4 linked regions of the Homo sapiens genome follow. The protein of the gene in region 1 interacts with the protein of each later gene in a pairwise test. Each region holds a gene or a part of one and is shown on either strand. Other genes may lie near its edges.

Evidence for each region. Proteins that work in one complex are often made in the same cells at the same time.
Region 2: the proteins of THSD7A (region 1) and SCN3B interact in binary tests that used the Homo sapiens proteins (3 or more experiments, as listed by UniProt).
Region 3: the proteins of THSD7A (region 1) and HSD17B13 interact in binary tests that used the Homo sapiens proteins (3 or more experiments, as listed by UniProt).
Region 4: the proteins of THSD7A (region 1) and ARL13B interact in binary tests that used the Homo sapiens proteins (3 or more experiments, as listed by UniProt).

The regions. Positions count from the first base shown.
Region 1 is NC_000007.14:11,825,699-11,829,198, reverse strand, and holds part of THSD7A (thrombospondin type-1 domain-containing protein 7A precursor), read left to right. Parts: intron 1-3,500.
Region 2 is NC_000011.10:123,644,625-123,648,124, reverse strand, and holds part of SCN3B (sodium channel regulatory subunit beta-3 precursor), read left to right. Parts: intron 1-2,374; coding exon 2,375-2,538; intron 2,539-3,500. UniProt on the Homo sapiens protein: Regulatory subunit of multiple voltage-gated sodium (Nav) channels directly mediating the depolarization of excitable membranes.
Region 3 is NC_000004.12:87,316,383-87,319,882, reverse strand, and holds part of HSD17B13 (17-beta-hydroxysteroid dehydrogenase 13 isoform A precursor), read left to right. Parts: intron 1-1,446; coding exon 1,447-1,554; intron 1,555-2,659; coding exon 2,660-2,791; intron 2,792-3,500. UniProt on the Homo sapiens protein: Plays a pivotal role in hepatic lipid metabolism. In vitro, it catalyzes the oxidation of a variety of lipid substrates, including 17beta-estradiol, retinol, retinal, and leukotriene B4.
Region 4 is NC_000003.12:94,032,155-94,035,654, reverse strand, and holds part of ARL13B (ADP-ribosylation factor-like protein 13B), read right to left. Parts: intron 325-3,500; coding exon 219-324; exon of another isoform or gene 214-218; intron 1-213. UniProt on the Homo sapiens protein: Cilium-specific protein required to control the microtubule-based, ciliary axoneme structure. May act by maintaining the association between IFT subcomplexes A and B. Binds GTP but is not able to hydrolyze fit; the GTPase activity remains unclear.

The sequences.
Region 1 (3,500 bases):
ATTTATGTATAACTTTTGACTTCCCCAAAACTTAACTACTAATAGCCAACTATTGATCAGAAGCCTTACAGATAACATGAACAGTCAATTAATACATATTTTATATATGTATTATATACTATATTGTTACAATAAAGTAAGCTAGAGACAAGGAAATGACATTTGGAAAATCACGAGGAAGAGACAATATATTTACTATTCATTAAATGGAACTGGATCATCATAAAGGTCTTTATCTTCATCGTCTTCACATTGAATAGGCTGAGGAGGAAGAGGAAGATAGATAAGGGGTTGGTTTTGTTGTTTGAGCAGTGGCAGAGGTGGAAGAAAATGCATGTAAGTTGAACTGCCCAAATCAAATCATGTTGTTCAAGAGCCAACTGTACACATGTGTGTATACATATAATATATACATGAATAATACTTATTACTTATACATTATATGTAATGTTAAATATCTATCTATCTATCTATCTATGTGCTTTATTAAGTCAACTCACAACAAAGAGTTTTTGAGGAGCTAAAATATGTAACCACTGTGGTAAAAGCTGAATGGGATACTGCCATCCCTGCCATTGAGAAGCTCACAATTAACTTTTTTAAAAAAATTCTTATTCAACTGATTACAGGCTTTAGGAGATACTCACAATTAAACAACACTATAAGTACACAATTACAACATGGCATACCATACACATGAACAGAACATTATAAGAACAAAGAAGTTATTTGGCTGATAAAGGAGGTGTGAAGGGTCGCAAAGATAATTTAATATATGATCTGGGTCTTGAAGGATGAGGTGGATTTTGACTGAGGAAGGAGTAGAAGGCCATTCTAAGCAGAGAGAAGGAAAAAAATAAAAGTGAAAAGGCACAGCAGCTTTCCTAGATCTTGAAAGTCCCAGTAGTACACAGCACCTCAAGCCCAGGATGTGGGATAGCAATGAAAAGATTTCATGCCAATCCAGTGAGTTAGGACCAGATTATCAATAAACTTTCAAACAATGGTAAGATATTGGACTTTAACTTATAAGTAGGTGGTAGCCACTGTAAACTTTGAGCAGAAGAGTGATATTTTGTTTGTCTAGAATGAAGAGAGATGAGTTTAGAAGCTGGAAGGCCAGTGACGTGAGTCGTTGACTGAGAGGCAAAGGGAAACAGAACTCCGACAATAGAAGTTATAGTGAAGAGTGAGTAGAAGAGGGCTTGAGGTCACACTGAAGCAATGTTAGCTTAGATTTAGGGTGCAGAAGACACAGTGCCTTCCAGGGAAAGTAGGAAAATGCCATCAAGGTTTTCATCATGCCTGTAGTCAGTAAAGGAGGTACAGGGTATGAAAAAAGGAAGAACAGATTGCTTAGTGTTGTGAAGAAGAATATCAATTTAATTCAGATATACTGAGCTTGAGGTAGCAATGACATATTTAGACCAATATATCTCATGGGAAAATTAGTGAATGGGTGACTCAGTTTAGGAGAAGGAGTTAGGCTGAAGATGTAAGCATGGAACTCAATAAATGTATATTTCAAGCCATGGGAGTGGGAGGGATCATTAAAGCAAAGAAAATATTGAAAAGAAGAGCCAGGATATTTCACAGAGAATATTGGGATATAAAGGGCCACAGTGGGAGAAGACCTAGAGAAACAGTCTAAGAAAGTATGGCCAGAAAAGGTACAAGGCAAATGACAAGATACACTAGATGAAGACGGTATTTTATAAAGGAGATTGTGGCAAAAAGTATTTTAAAAGTTTAGAAAGGCTAGGAAAGGAATTCTAAAATATTTTAGAAAATATCAAGTATGAGGACTTGGTAAGATAATTCACAGTGTTTTGGGAAACGACATTTTAGGTATAGAGGTAGAGATATAAACTTGATTGAATAAAAAACAACATGGTAGAAAAGATACAGTATCAATAAAGTTGAATAACTAAGTGGTATGTAAGTCTCTCTACTACAATGTTGTTGTTTTATGAGGAGGAAAAGCCCAGAATTTCAGATATTAAAAATTATTTATTAAAATATAAAAGTCTGTTGGGCATGGTGGCTCATACCTGTAATCCCACAGCTTTTTAGAGGTCAAGGTGGAAGGATTGCTTGAACCTAGGAGTTCAAGTTTACAGTCAACCATGACTACACCATTGTACTCCAGCCTGGGCGACAGAGCAAGATCCTGTCTCTAAAAATTAATTAAATAAATAAAATATAAAAGTTAAAATTTTCAGCACTTTTGTATCACAGTCATTTCAAAGTTAACTTATCTTTGTGTGAATAATTGGGAAGCATTTCATACACACAAGAGGCATAGCATTTATATTACTGAAAGATGAATAACTAATGTTACTAATAAGTGTTAATGGCATTTGCATTTTTTTTTTTTTTTTTTTTTGAGACAGAGGCTCACTCTTTTTGCCCAGGCTGGAGTACAGTGGCATGATCTTGGCTCACTGCAATCATTGCCTCCTGGATTCAAGCGATTCTCCTGCATCAGCCTCCTGAGTAGCTAGGGTTACAGGTGCCCGCCACCATACCCGGCTAATTTTTGTATTTTAAGCACAGACTGGGTTTCACCATGTTGGGCAGGCTGGTCTCAAACTCCTGACCTCAGGTGATCCACCCACCTTGGCCTCCCAAAGTTCTGGGATTACAGGGACATTTGCACTTTTTATTATTCTAGCATATGAGATTGTTTCTATAATAATTATTGTTAGTTATATTCACTTGGCAATTCCAAATTAAGAGTGTCAATGAATTGAGCAAAACGCGACTGACTTAGCATTAATCAGACAAAAAATGTTGAATACATAAACTTTTATCAACTTCTGTCATAGATATATTTTCAAAAATATCTTAATGAAGTAATTGAATTTATTTTTATAATGATGAAATTACACTGAATCCAAGAAACATGTACATAATAGCCATTATTTAGAATTGAGGTGATAGAGTATTTACAGGTATGCATTTTCTCTCAAGGAGAATACTCACATTAAACACTTTTGAACTGGATTCATCTAATGCAGGACATTACTATTACTGACAGTCAGTGTGTCCTTTACATAGTAATTGCATTAAAATTATGCCTTTGTTCTTCAACTTTAATAAAAACAATGTTATCTTTTTTTACTTTTGTGTACTTATGCTAATAGTACTTATTACTCTGCATATAAAATATTCTCCAATGTATATGCAAATATATCTATTTTAATTCTACCAATCTTTAAGTAACAAAGGAGAGAGGGATATCATTCCAGGTAGTCATAAAATGAGGTGGCATTATCCCAATACAAGTGTTTTAAACTTCAATTGTTCTTACAATTTACTTTTATTCAGAATGTCACACTGTTTTCTCACTTCAAGAATGAGAAGGATGGAATAGGGTAGACAGAGCATGAGCGTCAGCGTTAATCAATCTGGGGCATCATGGATGGAAAATACTCTATTCATGTTTCCTAAAAAGTTATTTTATCTCCCTGAATCTTTTTCTTTCATCTCCAATATGG
Region 2 (3,500 bases), on another chromosome or scaffold:
GGTTCCATACTACACGGAGTTCTTGCTGCATACGCTCTACCCCTCTGCCCACTCACAAACTTTTGCGCAAACCACATTTCCTTTTTGTTTAATCAGATCTATAATCAATACTTCAGACTCATCATATGCTGAAGATGTTTCTGATCAGTTCTCCCTAGATGTGAGTCCTCTCTCCATTAACGTGGCTCACCATCTGCAGAAGCAATAGGTCCTCTTGAAGACTGTCAGATAAGACTCACCCAGCTTGCTGGAGAGTTGAAAACCCAATTACATTTATTTTACCTTGATGTTTACAACTTTAAGTTAATTCTAGTGCCACTAGTTTTTAAACTCCATGTTTTAAAATAAATACATTGCCTTCTAAGTCAATCAAACACAGTTTTTGGACTCAAAATTAATTTATGGCAGTGTCTTATTAAGCTCTAAATAAAACCTTCCTCTGCTTTTAGGAAAGAACGCTCTGCCAGGAGATGAACAGGCTGACCATTAACAGTGGACTAGTTTTTAAATGTAGTGTGTATTATTTCTTTTTTTTTCTGGGGGTTCTGTTTTTATTATTAATTCATGAAAAAGTAGCATCAGAAGGGATCTTCAAAGTCCTAATATAAGAATCTGCGGTGACCATCATGTTGTTTTTATTTTTTCAAGAGATAGGGTCTTACTCTGTCAACCAGTCTGGAGTGCAGTGGTGCCATCATAGCTCATTGCAGCCTCAAACTCCTGGGCTCAAGCAATCCTCTTACCTCCTGAGTGGTTGGGACTACAGTTGTGTGTTACCATGTTTGGCTAATTTTTATTTTATTTTATTTTTGTAGACTCAGGGGTCTCACTATGTTGCCCAGGCTTGTCTCAGACCCCTAACATCAAGCAATCCTCTCAACTTAGCCTCCCAAAGTGCTGGGATTGCAGGTGTGAGCCACAGCACCTGGCCTCGTCTTACTTTCAAATATCCCAAACAATGCTGTGTACACTCTCTTAGCATTTAGTTATTTGCATTTGTGAACAGCTCCAAAATCATAAAATTCTTTCTTTATTGCATTAAACTTATTTTTTTCTTATAACTTTTAGGGTTGGGCAGAATCAAATTTCTCTTCCATCTGCCAGCCTTCAAATATTTGAAGACAGATATGTTCTGTGTCCAAGCTAAGCAACTCGAATTCTCCCATTTTTTCCTCACCAGACTTTATCTCCAGATCCTTCACCATCTCCCTCACCTCTGGGCATGCACTCTTTGAACAACTTCCTTTTTTAAAATGTGACATCCTGAACTGATCATAATAGTCCAGATTTGTTCCAAAAACAGTGCCGAGAAACTACGCCTCCTTCCTCCTGCGTACTGTACATCTGTTAATGCAGCTCACATTTGCGCATGTTTTGCTGGCAGCCTTGTCCCGCTCAAGTTATTCTGAATTATCAAGCTGATATACTTGCCTCCTTTTAAAAAACAGACTTCAAGTTTCTAGAGGGCAGAAACACTAAGTCTTAGACCTCTGTGTGGCATGCAAGGTGTCCCACAATCTGACCCCGCTCCAGATTTTAACTTGCCTTGCTATACTCCTCTGCATAGACCATTGTTCCAGCTTAGTGGTCCGCTCGCCATTTTCTTCACTGCTGCTCCAACCTCCACCATGTGTCAGAATTACCTACAGTTTTCACACAACACAGATACAATTACATCTCTCCACGACTTTAAAACATTGGATACCTCACACTGGAAGGGACACACAGAGGTCTTCACAGCATGGGCCCTGCCTACCTTTCTAGCCTCATGTTTCACCATCCTTCTCTTCCTTTCTCCCCAGGCCAACTGGGAGTAACTAACTGCCTGTCTTCTAAGAACAGAATATATCATGAGTGTGTTACTTGCTGTGGTCTGGTTTAATCCTAGTTAGGAATATGTGTTCCCTATTGGATTATAAATGCATTTAGGGCATGGTTAGTGTTTTATTCATCTTTGCATCTCTAGTCTAGCATCAGACCTGGCAGAGAGTGGATTTTAATGAGTGGTGGTGGAATGAAGGGGGATGGATGGTTGCTGGGTAGGTAGATGCCCTGTCTCCCATTTGGGCTATAAGACTTAGAGAGCAGGGCTCAAGTATAATGTACGGTGCTGCATCTCCACTGCTTCCAGGGGAAGGATTTCAGTCAATGTCTAGATCATCCAGGTCTCCTCCAATGTGTACACGTTCTGAGCCTGTACATTCAGGGAGCGCAGGTGAAGGTGTAGACATGTGCACGTGGCTTTTTTCAGGTTGGCCTCATGACTCTTCCTTCTCTGTCTCTCTTCCCTCCCTCCTTCTTCTCCAATGTTTCTCTCCTGTGCCCCTCCCCCACCACCTGCTGTTCCTTCCCTGTCCATCTGTCCTCTCTGCAGTCAGTGTCTGCTTCCCTGTGTGTGTGGAAGTGCCCTCGGAGACGGAGGCCGTGCAGGGCAACCCCATGAAGCTGCGCTGCATCTCCTGCATGAAGAGAGAGGAGGTGGAGGCCACCACGGTGGTGGAATGGTTCTACAGGCCCGAGGGCGGTAAAGATTTCCTTGTATGTTAGACTGCTGACTCTGGCCTTTCTTCTGCTGGCCTCTGCTGTTCCCAGCCTGGCTCCTGACAGTCCGGGGGATGCCAAGCTAGCAAACACTGGCTCCTTCTCTTCCAAACACTGACAGATCCTCAGCAGATAACTGACAGCCTTAGTGAAGCCCCAGCTTCTGTGAGAGAAAGGGCACTGGGCCAGCTGCAAGCACCCTTGATTATGGGCTGGAGGAAGCAGAGGAAAGAGATATGCTATATTTAAAGCCTACTATGTGATAGGCGCCCTACCACACATTTTGCAGGTGTTTTCATCTAATCTTCTGTGCCATCCTATTATATGCATTAAATTCATAAAGAAATTGGAATAACACAAAGCATCATTATGTGAAATAACAAAGGTTAGCTCCTTTAACTCCTGCAGTCCCATTGAAATAGGAATGACAGGGATGACAAAGAGTGATCCAAGGGTGACATTCACCCGGGACACCCAGCACAGCCACATCAGTGAGTCAATTATGTCAAACAGTTCTCTCGTGGATACTTGCTGTGCCGAGTCTCCTAAGTGGCTGAACCCCCAGACTTATCCATGATTTGGAAACGAAGAGATTCGCTCCTGGCAGAGCTGGGAGTCTTCCAGATTCTGCTCCTGCACCATAGCCAGTGTCAGTTCTGGGTGGTTGGTGCCAGTGGCAAAGTGGTTGTATATGTGTGTGTATATATATATATGTATGTGTGTGTGTATATATGTGTGTGTGTATATATATATATATATATATATATATATATATATATATATTCTCTCTCTCTCTCTCTCTCTCTCTCTCTCTCTCAACGGGGTCTCCCTCTGTCACCCAGCTGGAGTGCAGTGGTGTGATCTCGCTTACTGTAACCTCCACCTCCCAGATTCAAGCGATTCTCCCACCTCAGCCTCCCCAGTAGCTGGGACTATAGGCACCACCACCATGCCCAGCT
Region 3 (3,500 bases), on another chromosome or scaffold:
TTTCCAGAATGTGAGTCAAGAAACATTAGAGCAATTTTATCTTAGGAAAGAGGTCTTTGAATTTAGGCTGAAAGTAAATTGCTCTGTCTCCATGTCCTATGGTTATGGGCAAGTTTGGTACATAAATGAGAAATCCATCCAGTGGCCTTGCCCATCTCACTCCCAAACACCTGAAGAATGTAATGTTATATCTCCTAGAGTAGCAGCATGGTCTCCCTATGAAAGTCCTTCTTCTTTAAGGAGACTTCTTTCCCTTCCCTCCTAGGAGGATGAGTCAGAATCATCAAGAAAAATATGATGGGCAGAGGCATACAGTTTACCATTACCACTAGTTTAGAATTACTACTTAGCACTTTACTGCCTATTACATAGTTGGTGCTCAACAAATGTATGATAAATTAATGGTTGAGTTTTTCTTTCTTCTCCATATTCATCTTCCATGACACCACGAAGAGCAATGTTTTTCAAGAATGTTCTTCAAGGTTTGAAAGTAGCCTGCTTTAGAGAAACTGCCTACTGTACAGCCTCCAACCAAGAGGAAAAGCTGAAAAAAGCATGAAGGGATTTTGTTTTGTTTTGTTTGTTTTGGTTTTAATATGAGCATTCCCTGGCAGAAAAGCCAGGGGTAATCTCATTGCAACTAGGCAATCACTCTCAAGAAATTTTCTAACAAATAAGGAGGCCAATTTTTATTTTATTTTGAGACGAAGTCCCACTCTGTCACCCAGGTTGGAGTGCAATGGAATGATTTCAGCTCACTGCAACCTCCGCCTCCCGGGTTCAAGTGATTCTCCTGTCTAAACTTCCCGAGTAGCTGGGATTACAGGCTCCCACCACCACGCCCAGCTAATTTTTTGTATTTTTAGTAGAGATGGGGTTTCACCATTTTGGCCAGACTGGTCTCAAACTCCTGACCTCAAGTGATCCACCCTCCTCGGCCTCCTAAAGTGCTGGGATTACAGGCGTGAGCCACCACACCTGACCCAGGAGGCCAATTTTTAAAAGGTTAACTAATCTTCATGTCCAAAATGAATGTTAATTGTTCATTTTGGACATGAATGTTAATTTTTTTTTTTTTTTTTTTTGAGACAGAGTCTCACTCTGTTGCCCAGGCTGGAGTCCAGTGGCACTATCTCCACTCACTGCAACTTCCTCCTCCCAGGTTCAAGCAATTATCCTGCCTCAGCCTCCCAAGTAGCTGGGATTACAGGCCCACACCATCAGGCCTGGCTAATTTTTGTATTTTTAGTAGAGACGGGGTTTCACCATGTTGGCCAGGCTGGTCTTGAACTCCTGACCTCGTGATCCGCCCTCCTCGGCCAACCAAAGTGCTGGGATTACAGGCGTGAGCCACCGCGCCTAGCCGAATGTTAATTGTCTAAAAATTTTTCTTCTCCAATGTCTTCTCCTCCACTTTTTTCGGAATTTGTTTCTTCCTAATTACAGCGCGGTGTGGAGGAAACTGCAGCTGAGTGCCGAAAACTAGGCGTCACTGCGCATGCGTATGTGGTAGACTGCAGCAACAGAGAAGAGATCTATCGCTCTCTAAATCAGGTGAGACTGCAGGTTCACAAATTTCTTCAGATTATTTTGTTTCCTAGGACGCTGACGTGGAAAATGAGAAAGGTCTTTATGACTGCCTGATTTAAATTGGATTTTAGCTGCTAACTGAAGTAGTTATGTCACCAAGGAAGGATATATACTTTTTTTCTTGTATGTAATCCACTCAGCTCTGCCCATTATTATTGTTCATATTATTAATCAATTTCATTCTGATCAGAAGTGTGAGCAGTGGCACAGAGTGACTGACAAAAGATTTATCATCAGGGAATATGGATCACTTCCTAGTTTTGTTTTAGTCCTATTAACTTTGCAGTAATTCCAGCTTCTCTTTAATTATTTCCCTTGTGAGATTTTATTTTGGTGTTAATGTAGTCTTCTGTAGAAAATGTAATATTAATAATTATTATCACAATTATTTTAAAAGAGTAAATACCAAATAATCACAATGAACTAAGCACTCTAACAAACTTTACATTTTTTAATTCAATCCCTACAATAACTCTGTAAACTTCATTTTACAGATAAGCAAATTATGACTCAGAGAGGTTAAGCCAGACCCAGGTCATGTAGTTATTAGGTTATGAAACCAGGATTTCTCAACCAGCACTTTAGACCAGGTGCGGTGGTTCACACATGTAATCCCAGCACTTTGTGAGGCCAAGGTGGAAGGATCACATGAGACCAAGAGTTCAAGACCAGCCCAGGCAACATAGTGAGACCCTATCTCTAAAAAAAAAAAAAAAAAAAAAAAAAAAAGTTTAAAGAAAAACACATTTTTAAAAAATGAACACTTTAAAAATATTTGGTCAGAATTTATATAGGAATTTATCAACATAAATGTTAATTTCACTTTACTGATAAACTTGCAAAACATGATGTGCTGGGTACTGAAATTTAGATGTTAAAAGAACAGTTTATCCCACCTTTATGACAGTGTTCCCTTGGCCTCCACGATTTGAGCTCAACAGTCTGTCTTGCCTGAACTCTGAGAGACCTCATACAATAGAAGAAAGACTCTCATCTTTGGATTATATTGGTCCCAAAACTTTGAGTTTGAATAATACACCCAGTGAAAGTGTTCTTTCAATTTCAAAAGGTGAAGAAAGAAGTGGGTGATGTAACAATCGTGGTGAATAATGCTGGGACAGTATATCCAGCCGATCTTCTCAGCACCAAGGATGAAGAGATTACCAAGACATTTGAGGTCAACATCCTAGGACATTTTTGGGTGAGTGTGAGTCAGAAACATTTCTGATTTGTGCACCTTCTCTTAAGATACATGAAACTTATAACGGAGTTCACATACTTCTGGACAGGAAACTGGCCAGATCTTTGCCTTAATCAAGAATCATTAAATTTGTTTGAGTAGAAGAGCCACAGAGTCTCTGACACAAGGACACAGAATTCAAGTGGACACAACACACCAGAATGTAAGCTACTTGGTCTGTCTTGTCCACCAGTATCTGACACAAAGCTTGGCATGTACCAGGAGCTCAACAAATGTTTGTGGAGGTTTGTTAAGGGTTGTCAGTGTACATCTTTTCAATGCTGTCACTTGTGACTTCATTTTTTTCCCTCCACACCATGATTTTGTAATGTGTCCTCATTTTGTGGAATTTTAGAATGGAAAGGACATCAGAAGTAATTACTTGGATGTATATAGGATCGAGGACACTTTTGGACGAGACTCTGAGGCAAGTGTTCTAGATCCATGGGGTGCTGGAACTGAGAAATGCAGCTATACAGACCTCATATAATTGGTTAGTTTTGTGGGAGATGGAAATATCAACTTCAACTGCCTTTGTATAGAAATTTTTATGATTAATCTTCCAGTGCCTCAATATTAGTGTAGAATCTAGGGCAGATCTGGATTCTAGAAGAAAGAAGAAAAAAAAGAGATGTGTCCCCCTTACCTTTACCAGCTCTTCACATATGTG
Region 4 (3,500 bases), on another chromosome or scaffold:
CATGGAAAGATAGTTCATGGAAATAACAATGAAATAGACAACAAATATTATGGTATTAAGTTATATCAACAGAAAAATGGGAATGTGATTTCATAGGTTACAAAAAATTCTTTGAAAACATTGCCTTTTAATTGCTATCACTTTTATAAAAACCAAGTTATACTGAACCTATTTGAAAGGACAAAAAATTAAAATTAAAAAAAAAAAAAAAACCTTACTATCTGACACAGGCACTTGTGCTCATTGACCAATTTTTCCAGAGATAGACATTCAATGACATCAGCTTCTCCTAAAGCTCCTTCTTTATCTTGTTTATTTGCCAACCTGAAAGATAATTAAAGTACTTTTATACAGCATATATATAATTGGATGGAAACTTAAAGATATTTTGACCACATTCTTTTTTTTTTTTTTTTTTGAGACTGAGTCTTGCTCTGTTTCCCAGGCTGGAGTACAGTGGTGCAATCTCAGCTCACTGCAACCTCCGCCTCCCAGGTTCAAGTGATTCTCCTGCCTCAGCCTCCAGAGTAGCTGGGACTACAGTTGTGTGCCACCACGCGAGGCTAATTTTTTGTATTTTCAGTAGAGACTGGGTTTCGCCATGTTGGCCAGGCTGGTCTTGAACTCCTGACCTCAAGTGATCTGTCAGTCTCAGCCTCTCAAAGTGCTGGGATTACAGATATCATCCACCATGCCTGGCCTGACCACATTCTTTGATTCCCAAGTTTTAAATGTACTGATTACAGAACACACTAGTATCTTAAAATGTTGTAGCATCAATTTTGTCATTTTTCCCTTATTATTGCTAAAATAGTTTTTAAGTACTGGCCTATAAAAGGAAAATCAAATAAAGTGTCAAGAAAACATAAACAAGAGATCAATATGCCAACAAAACAGAAAAAGCTACAAAACAGAAAAATAAGAGGACTAATTTCCACAGGTCACATCCATAAATTATATTCTTATCTTCTTAAAATACAAACTGTAATGTTTTAAATGCCCAAATATTCATTCTGAACTTTTAATATTTGAGCTCATCTACAATTCTAATGTGTGAATGTGTCCACATAAATGTGCAATTTACTGAAGACCCAAGGCCACTTCTAATATACTTGGCAAAGCACTGGGAATTAAAAAAAAAAAAAAAATTGTACTCAATTAGAGACAAACTGGACACCAACAAAATGGAAAACCAATATATTCTACAGAAAAACAGGATTTACCACAATTTACCACTATTTAATTATATAACATAGATTTAAAAGTTTAATAAAATACTGCCTTGCTCAAAGTTTGACAGACTCTTTAGGTTAAAAAAAAAATTAAGTACATAGACTAAGAAATCTAACGAACCCTTCCCACCTATCTTTAAAAATTATCAAAACTGTGTCATTCTTGCTTATCTATATACCTTCTTTTTTTTTGTATTTCCCAAGTTACCATTAAAATCTACATACCTTCTATTTTGCTGCCTGAATCACATTACTTCACCCAGATATTAAAAAATCATTACCATGATACCACTATCACACCTAACAAAATTAACAGTAAGTCTTCAATATTACTCAATTTACTCAATATTCTCCAATATCATTTTACAAGTGTTATGTTTAAATTCAGGTCCAATATACGTTACTTATCACTTAACTCTTTTTGAATCTATATTATACCTGCCCTCCCCACTACCACCCCCATGACTCTTTTCCTCCCATGACATTTGTAATTTTTCTTTAGAATTCCCATGTTTGGGATTTGGCTAATATCTTCCTTATAAACTTATTTAACATACCTATCCTATATTTCCCGTATCTGGTGGTAAGAAGCTGGATGAGTTTCAGATGAAATCTTTTTGGCAAGCATACTTCGTAGGTGGTGCTTGTATTTAGGGAGGCATATAATATCACTTTTATATAATGTCCTATTTTGGTGGTATAAAATTAACTAATGGATTTACATTTAGCCTGATCCATCCAAAATAAAGTTCCTCATTAATCTTTCACTTAATGATTTTAGCAGCCATTGATGACCTTTACTTAATTCTATTATTTTACCAAAGTTTATGAAACAGTAACTTTATAGTTCCATATTCCTTCTGCATTTACTAGCAGGATTCTTGCTAAAAATAAGCTTTCACCAACTACTTGGTGCCTCTTAAAATTCACAAAGTCAAGATAAATGTTTGATCCTTTGCCTTTATTTCCTGATTTTCAAAATAATGAATTAATGGCGTAGCAACCTCCGAAGGTGATCAGGTTGATTTAAAAAAAAAAAATCCTATAAATTTAAGGATTATGAGTGCAGTTTTGTGATGTAAATGTATTGCATAGTGGTGATATATTGCATAGTGGTGAGGTCTGGGCTTTCAGTGTAACCATAAGCTTAATAATGTGCATTGTAGGTATTAATTTCTCATCTCTAACTCCCCTTCCACCCTCCCACCTGTCCAAGTCTCCAATGTCTATTAATCCACACTCCATGTCAATGTGTACACATTATTTAACTTCCACTTGTGAGAACACGCTAGATTTGACTGTTTCTGAATTATTTCACTTTAAAAAATGACCTCCAGCTCCATCCACGTTGCTGGAAAAAACATGCTTTTTTAAATAGTTGAATAGCATTCCATTTTATGTATGTATATACAAAACACACACACAAACATTTTCTTTCATCATCCATTGAAGGACATTTAGGTTGACTCCCTACCTTTGCTACTGTGAATAATGCTGTGATAAACATCTTGAGTTCAGATATCTTTTCTTGTATAATGATTTCTTTTCCTTTGGATAGGTACCCAGTAGTGAGGTTGCTAGACTGAATGGTAGTTCTTTTTTTAGGTCTTTAAGAAATCTCCATACTGGCCGGGCACGGTGGCTTACGCCTGTAATCCCAGCACTTTGGGAGGCCGAGGCGGGCGGATCACAAGGTCAGGAGATCGAGACCATCCTGGCTAACACGGTGAAACCCCATCTCTACTAAAAATACAAAAAACTAGCCGGGCGTGGTGGCAGGCGCCTGTAGTCCCAGCTACTCGGGAGGCTGAGGCAGGAGAAGGGCATGAACCCGGGAGGCAGAGCTTGCAGTGAGCCGAGATCGCGCCACTACACTTCAGCCTGGGCAACACAGCGAGACTCCGTCTCAAAAGAAAAAAAAAAAAGAAATCTCCATACTGTTTTCCATAGTGATTGTACTAATTTACATTCCAAGAGTGTATAAACATTCCTTTTGCTACACAATCTCGCAGACATCTGCTATGTTTTAACTTTTCAGTAACAGCTAAAAATTCTGACTGGTGTGAGATGGTATTTCATTGTGGTTTTAATCTGCATTTCTCTGATTAGGCATATTGAGCATTTTTTTCATATGCTTGTTGGCCATCTGTATGTCTTCTTTTGAAAAATGACTATTCATGTCTTTTGCACATTTTTAATGGGGTTGTTTTTTGTTGTTGATTTCCTTGTAAGTTTTGGTTATTAGTCTCCTATAGGATAAAGAGGTCG